2 linked regions of the Homo sapiens genome follow. Changing the gene in region 1 together with any one later gene gives a genetic interaction. Each region holds a gene or a part of one and is shown on either strand. Other genes may lie near its edges. The genes, in order: SLC5A5 and NTRK1.

Region 1 (4,019 bases):
TGCACTCCCTCACTAGCTTGGTGGGATTGAGGTCGAAGAGCATTCCTAGCAGAGGGAATGGCCTGTGCAAAGGCCAAGAAGTAGGAAAGAGCTGAGAGGAGGCCAGGTGCGGCGGCTCATGCCTGTATCCCAGCACTTTGGGAGGCTGAGGCGGGTGGATCACCTGAGGTCAGGAGTTTGAGACCAGTCTGGCTAACATGGTGAAACCCTGTCTCTACTAAAAATATAAAAATTAGCTGGACGTGGTGGCACGCACCTGTAGTCCCGGCTACTCAGGAGGCTGAGGCAGGAGAATCTCTTGAACCCGGGAGGCGGAGGTTGCGATGAAGGGAGATCGCACCACTACACTCCACCTTGGATGACAGAGTGAGACTCTGTCTCAAAAAAATAAAATAAAATAAAATAAAGAGTTCAGAGGAGGATCTGCAAGGAATGGGAAAGGTGAGTCTGGGAGGCAATGGACCGCCCTCAGTAGGTGTGAGCAGACAAGGGCCACATTCAGATCTAGAGTTCCAGAGAGTTCCAAAGATCCCCTGGGAGATGCTCAGGAGGAGATGAAACCATGACCCAGGCCGGGCATGTTGGCTCACGCCTGTAATCCCAGCACTTTTGGAGGCCGAGACAGGCAGATCACTTGAGGTTAGAAGTTCGAAACCAACCTGGCCAACATGGTGAAACCCCCCTCCACTAAAAATACAAAAATTACCTAGGCCTGGTGATGCATGCCTGTAATCCCAGCTACTCGGGAGGCTGAGGCAGGAGAATAGCTTGAACCCGGGAGGTGGAGGTTGCAGTGAGCAGAGATCGCGCCATTGCACTCCAGCCTGGGTGACAGAGAGAGACTCCATCTCAAAAAAAAAAAAAACAAAAAAAAAAAACCAAAACAAGGCTGGGCGCGGTGGCTTACGCCTATAATCTCAGCACTTTTGGAGGCTGAGGCAGGGGTATCACCTGAGGTCATGAGTTGAAGACCATCCTGACCAACATGGAAAAACCCCGTCCCTACTGAAAAATACAAAATTAGCCGGGTGTGGTGGTGCATGCCTGTAATCCCAGCTACTCGGGAGGCTGAGGCAGGAGAATAGCTTAAACCTGGGAGGCGGAGGTTGCGGTGAGCTGAGATGGCGCCATTGCACTCCAGCCTGGGCAACAAGAGAGAAACTCCGTCTCAAACAAAAATAAAAACAAAACAAAACAAACCCACAAAAACAAAAACAAAAACTGTAATCCAGCGGGAACTAATCATGTTGGTGATAATAATAATGACAGCTCTGGTCTCCCATGTCCCAAGCGTCCACTCTGTGCCTCATGCTGTTCCCTTCACCAGCAGTTAGTTCTCCATCTAATCTTTCTTCTGAGAAAGGCAGGGCAGTCACGGCTCCAACTTTACAGATGAGGAAATTGAGGCTCGGGGGGAAGTCACTGCCTGAGGTCAATGGGCAAGTCGGGGGGCGGTGCCAGGACCCATGCCTAGGTCACACCCCAAGTAGAGTTCTGACCATGGGGTTCAGAGTTAGCAGAGGGTACGGGGGACCACCCCATCTGCAGTCCTCCCTGGAGGTCAGATCCGGGACTGCTGGACTGTGTAACTTCAGGGAGGGACTGTACTCTCTGCCTCACAGTCTTCATCAATAAAATGAGGATGACACGGGTCCCTGCTTCACAGGGATCCCAGGGCTCAGAACACAGTGGGGCTCAGGGACAATTCTCAGGTTCATGCAGTTGATCAACAAATGCACATTATAGCCTGAGGAACATAGGGAGACCCCATCTTTACACAATTTTTTTTTTTTTGAGCCAGAGTCTCACTCTGTTGCCCAGGCTGGAGTGCAGTGGCGCAACCTCAGCTCACTGCAACCTCTGGCTCCCAGGATCAAGCCATTCTCTTGCCTCAGCCCCCGAGTAGCTGGGATGACAGGCATGCGCCACCATGCCCAGCTAATTTTTTTGTATTTTTTGTAGGGGTGGGGTTTTGCCATGTTGGCCAGGCTGGTCTCAAACTCCTGACCTCAGGTGATCCACCTGCCTCAGCCTCTGAATGTGCTGGGATTACAGGCATGAGCCACTGTGCCCGGCCTTTCTTTCTTTTCTTTCTTTTTTTTTTTTTTTGAGACAGAGTTTGGCTCTGTTGTGCAGGCTGGAGTGCAACGGCGCGATCTCCGCTCGCTGCAACCTCTACCTCTCAGATTCAGGCAATTCCTCTGCCTCAGCCTCCCAAGTAGCTGGGACTCCAGGTGCCAACCACCACACCCAGCTAATTTATGTATTTTGGGTAGAGATGAGGTTTCACCATGTTGGCCAGGCTGGTCTTGAACTTCTGAGCTCAAGTGATCCACCCGCCTCGGCCTCCCGAAGTGTTGGGATTACACGCGTGAGTCACCCTGCCCGGCCAGACCCCTATCTTTACACAAAAATTTAAAAAAATTAGCCAGGCATGGTGGCGCACACCTGTGGTCTCAGCTACTGGGGGACTGAAGCAGGAAGATCGCTTGAGCCCAGGAGTTCTAGGCTGCAGTGAGCCACATTCATGGGACTGCACTCCCGCCTGGGCAACAGAGCAAGATCTTTTCTCAAAACAAAACAAAACAAAACAAAACCACAGACAAAAACTAAATGCATATTAAATGCCGACTCTGAGCCCTGTCCGTCTTGGGTGCTGGGGACGTGCAGCATCAGGACAGATAGATGCCCCGGTCCTCGGGGTGCAGCTGTCTGGGAGGCTGACCCCCAGTTCTCCCCAGTACATGCCTCTGCTGGTGCTGGACATCTTCGAAGATCTGCCTGGAGTCCCCGGGCTTTTCCTGGCCTGTGCTTACAGTGGCACCCTCAGGTGAGCACCCCTGCTTGTTCATGGAGCATTATTTCAGCCCCTGGGAGCCTCCTTATCCTGGCCTGCCATCCCTCTGGGGCATGGAATGTTCTGGACCTGTCCATCAGTCCCAGTTCCTGCTTGATCCCTAGAAGACAGCTCAGGTAGGCGCTGGCAGAGAGCATGCCCTGGGCACAGGGACCCCAACTGCAAGGGTTTACCTTCTTATCACCTGTCAGGGCCACGCCTGACTCTCCTCTCTTCTTCTTCCTTCTTTCCTTCCTTCCTCCCCAGACAAATATTTGTTGAACATCTACTATGTGGCAGGTACTGTTTTTTTTTGTTTTTTTTCCGGATGGAGTCTTGCTCTGTCACCCAGGCTGGAGTGCAGTGGTGCCATCTCGGCTCACTGCAACCTCCACCTCCTGGGTTCAAGCAATTCTCCTGCCTCAGCCTCCCAAGTAGCTGGGATTACAGGTCCACGCCACCACAGCCGGCTAATTTTTGTATTTTTAGTAGAGACGGGGTTTCGCCATGTTGGCCAGGCTGGTCTTGAACTCCTGACCTCAGGTGATCTGCATGCTTTGGCCTCGCAAAGTGCTGAGATTGCAGGCATGAGCCAACGTGCTCAGCCCAGGTACTGTTGTTCTAAACCCTGGGGCACAGCCATGACCAAGCAGTCCCCTGCTTCTGCCTTCCAAGGCCACACACTCAGGTGGTTTCCACTCTTCCGGGACTTCTGGTCACATGCCCTCACTGTCCCTTTTGCAAATCTCCCACATGTGACTGCAGTCCCTCTGGAACCAGAACCCACCTGTCTGTCCCACCTGCCCTTGGTCACAGGTGTCCTTGCTCCTGTAGGGATGTCTCAGGTCTTCGGGGAGGGGAGGGGCAAATATCTCCTTCACCTTTGCAGGACTGGGTTACCCCCACCGTTGCCCTCAGGCTGGGTGAGGTCTGGCAGGCCAGATGGTGTGGACGGTCTCTCCATATGGCCTGAGGACCCCCCGCTGCCTTCCTCACACAGCACAGCATCCACCAGCATCAATGCTATGGCTGCAGTCACTGTAGAAGACCTCATCAAACCTCGGCTGCGGAGCCTGGCACCCAGGAAACTCGTGATTATCTCCAAGGGGCTCTGTGAGTTTCAGGGAGACCTGGGTGGGAGGCCAGGGCAGTCCCTCCCCGTTGACCGTGCCATCCTCATCCA
Region 2 (3,500 bases), on another chromosome or scaffold:
GAGAAAGCAGTCAGAGGGAGGAGAGAAAGCAGTCAGAGGGAGGAGGAAAGCAGTGAGTCCCCTGCCTACTCTGGGACTCATTCCTTCATGGGACGAGGGGGGATGGAGGTGGGCTGCTGGGCCTCAAGGAAGAAGATGCATGTGACCCTTTTCCAGCTGGGCCAGGATGCCCTGCTGCATGGCTGTCTCCTCAGCCAGCCGACAAGGACGGAATAGCTCAGGAGTTCAGGAGTCCTGGCTTGGGGAGAGGGTAAGGAGGCCAGAACAGCGGGACACCAGGACTCCAGACTCCTTTCTGTCCCGAACCAGGCACTCCAATTTCTGGGGTCAGGGCTATAGCAGGAAGTTGGCTGTAACCCAGGAGGAGCCCAGGAGTGGGGGCAGGGTTCAGGATGGCCCTCGCACCAGGGATGGGGTCCTCGGGGTTGAACTCGAAAGGGTTGTCCATGAAGGCAGCCATGATGGAGGCGGAGGCCTGGCCGAAGGGGTTGGCAGCCAGCAGCGTGTAGTTGCCGTTGTTGACGTGGGTGGGCTGGTTGAGGCGCAGACACCCGTGCCGCACGGTCTCATTGGCTGCCGGCTCCAGGAACTCAGTGAAGATGAAGCTGGTCTCATTGAGCACGGAGCCATTGAAGAGCCAGCGCAGAGACGGTGCCGGCTGCCCATCCACAGAGAAGGGGATGCACCAGTGGTGCATCTCCACCGCCGTGTGCAGCTGCACACTGGCCGGGACTGTGGGCCAGAAAGAGCAACAGCAGGAGGTCAGGGCGCAGCTGGAGGGAGCCTGGCACACACCCGACAAGTCCACGGGCAAAGCGAGTAGAACCCGAAATCAAAGGGCAGGCCTGGGAGAAACAGGTCAGCAGGCCCTGGGAAATTCACCAAGGAGAGATGTTTTGAAGAAAGTTGACAATACATTTTAAATAAATCAGGCAGCAGGCATATAAAATTTAGAGGCTTAAAGAACATAAGTGGTGGGCCATAAATAAGTCACAGCCCCACAGGAGTGGGGTATCAGCTTATGACAATTAAACATGGAGTCTTTGGGATAAGGAATCTAGAAGAAGTCAGTGTAACCAAGCTGAAGAAGATGGGTCAGGGGCCCTAACAATCAAACCAGCCAAAAATATATACAGTTAAATTTTTGGGGAAAAGCCAGGCACAGTGACTTGCTCCTGTAATCCCAGCTACTCAGGGGGCTGAGGTGGGAGGATCGCTTGAGGCCAGGAGTTCAAGGCTGCAGTGAGTTATGATCCCAAAGCATTCCAGCCTGGGCAACAGGCTGAGACCCCATCTCTTCAAACACACACACACACACACACACACACACACACACACACACACACTCTTTTTGAAAAAAGATATGCGTTTGAAATAGACCCAATCTGGGCCAGGCGCGGTGGCTCACGCCTGTAATTCCAATACTTTGGGAGGCCGAGGCGGGCGGATCACGAGGTCAGGAGATCGAGACCATCCTGGCTAACACGGTGAAACCCCGTCTCCACTAAAAAAATACAAAAAATTAGCTGGGCGTGGTGGAGGGCGCCTGTAGTCCCAGATACTCAGGAGGCTGAAGCAGGAGAATGACGTGAACCTGGGAGGCGGAGCTTGAAGTGAGCCGAGAGCGCGCCACTGCACTCCAGCCTGGGTGACAGAGCGAGACTCCATCTCAAAAAAAAAAAAAAGAAATAGACCCAATCTGGTAAAAGTAAAAGCCCCTCAATGATAGAAAAAAAGTGTATGTATGCATAAATATATGTATATATATATATAATATAGCATTCATACATAGGAATACTATTTAGCAATGAATTGCATGAGCTACATATAGCAACTCCCATTAACATGAATGAATCTTATAAATATAATGTTGAATGAAAGAAACCAGATACAAAATAATACACGCAGTATGATTCCATTTATATAATGTACAAGAACAGGCAAAACTAAATGATACCGATAGGAAAGCATATTTGAGAAAAATTATTTTTAAAAGCAAGGAAATGGTTATCCTGACAAAAGTCAACATGAGATGGGAGAGTGGGATGGGATTGCGAACAGGGAGAGGTGTTGGGTGGTGGGGGATCTTCCGTGATGCTGGTAAGAGTAATTATTGTTTAAAATATATATATTTTTTGCACATTTCTATGTATATTTCACAATAAAAGAAGAAAACTGATGTAAAGTAGAATATTTAAGATAATTTGTTGGCTGATCTAGAGAAATTAGGCAGCGAGCGTAAAGAGGAACTCAGGAGGAGAATTTCCTCTTTTGAAACTAGGATGCGGGGAGAAGGACCCGATGAGGGACGGGCATGAAAAAATACTTCGGAGCAGTGGGAACAGCCGGGCATCTGGCGTTGAGGGCCTCAGGTAGCAAGGCTCGGGCAGGGGGCCAGAAAGAAATCCATCTCCATCCCTCTGGCCTTGACAAGACCCCAGGACTTCCCCCAAAGGATCAGGTTTTCATGGGAATCTGGAAACAGCTGGGAGGGAGCAGCTGTGGAGACACACATCCCACCCTTTCTTCCAGCCCCCCACCCTACATCCTCTTTTGAGGGAAGAAGAGATGAGTAGGGGGTGGGTGCCGGAGCTGCCACTGAGACTCACAGGAGACGTTGACCTGAACAGAGACCTCTGCCCGGCCCACATCGTTCTCTGCCCAGCACGTCACGTTCTTCCTGTTGAGGTCACTGGTGACATTGGCCAGGGTCAGCCCCAGGGATGGCAGACCCCCAGATTTCTAGATCAGGAAAGAGAGGGGGGAATAAGAAGGAGCTTTAGCCAGCTTGGGGCTGGGGCTGAAGTCTTTGGAGAGCCCCTCTGGCTCCAGATGGAAAGGAGAGGAGGGCTGGGAGGGAAGAGAAGGGAGAGAGGGGTGGGAGAGAATGTAGCAGATAATGGCCTTCCTCCTTTAGGTTTGTTCGTTGACTATCTCCTGGATCACATTTTTTTTTTATTTTATGTTTTATTTTTGTAGCGACGGGGTCTTACTGTCCTGCCCAGGCTGGTCTTGAACAGGGCCTCAAGCAATCCTCTCACCTCGGCCTCCCAAAGTATTGGGATTACAGGCGTGAGCCACTGCGCCCAGCCTGGATCACGTATTTAATTATCTGAAAAATCTAAAATCTAACCAGTAGCCTCAAAATAGGCACAAAATATCCCAAACTGAAACTAAAACCAGCCATCTGAGCAGCTAAACAGATGTCACGCATCCCAAGTACCAAATTTGTACACAGCTCGTTGGAGACCCCACTAGGACCTCACTGCCTATTCATTCCTGTTTTACACACAGTTCTAACAAACTGAGTCTCAGCCCAAGGAAGATCAGAAACAAAGAGATGGTGCAAATAGCACAGCAGCAGTTAGAAACAACAGCAGCGGCATCGCCTCCTGCAGCAGATGAGGACCATGGGTGAGGTTAGACAGGCAAAGTGACTTGATTCTGAATCATCGTCAGGATTGAATCAGATCAAGTTTCTCTTCCTAGGAAACCGTGGA

Evidence for each region.
Region 2: changes in SLC5A5 (region 1) and NTRK1 together harm fitness less than expected from each alone (positive genetic interaction), as found in Homo sapiens cells (one large-scale study listed by BioGRID).

The regions. Positions count from the first base shown.
Region 1 is NC_000019.10:17,878,124-17,882,142, forward strand, and holds part of SLC5A5 (sodium/iodide cotransporter), read left to right. Parts: intron 1-2,708; coding exon of another isoform or gene 2,709-2,741; coding exon 2,742-2,830; intron 2,831-3,836; coding exon 3,837-3,949; intron 3,950-4,019. UniProt on the Homo sapiens protein: Sodium:iodide symporter that mediates the transport of iodide into the thyroid gland. Can also mediate the transport of chlorate, thiocynate, nitrate and selenocynate.
Region 2 is NC_000001.11:156,870,865-156,874,364, reverse strand, and holds part of NTRK1 (high affinity nerve growth factor receptor isoform 2 precursor), read right to left. Parts: intron 2,743-3,500; coding exon 2,610-2,742; intron 733-2,609; coding exon 406-732; intron 1-405. UniProt on the Homo sapiens protein: Receptor tyrosine kinase involved in the development and the maturation of the central and peripheral nervous systems through regulation of proliferation, differentiation and survival of sympathetic and nervous neurons.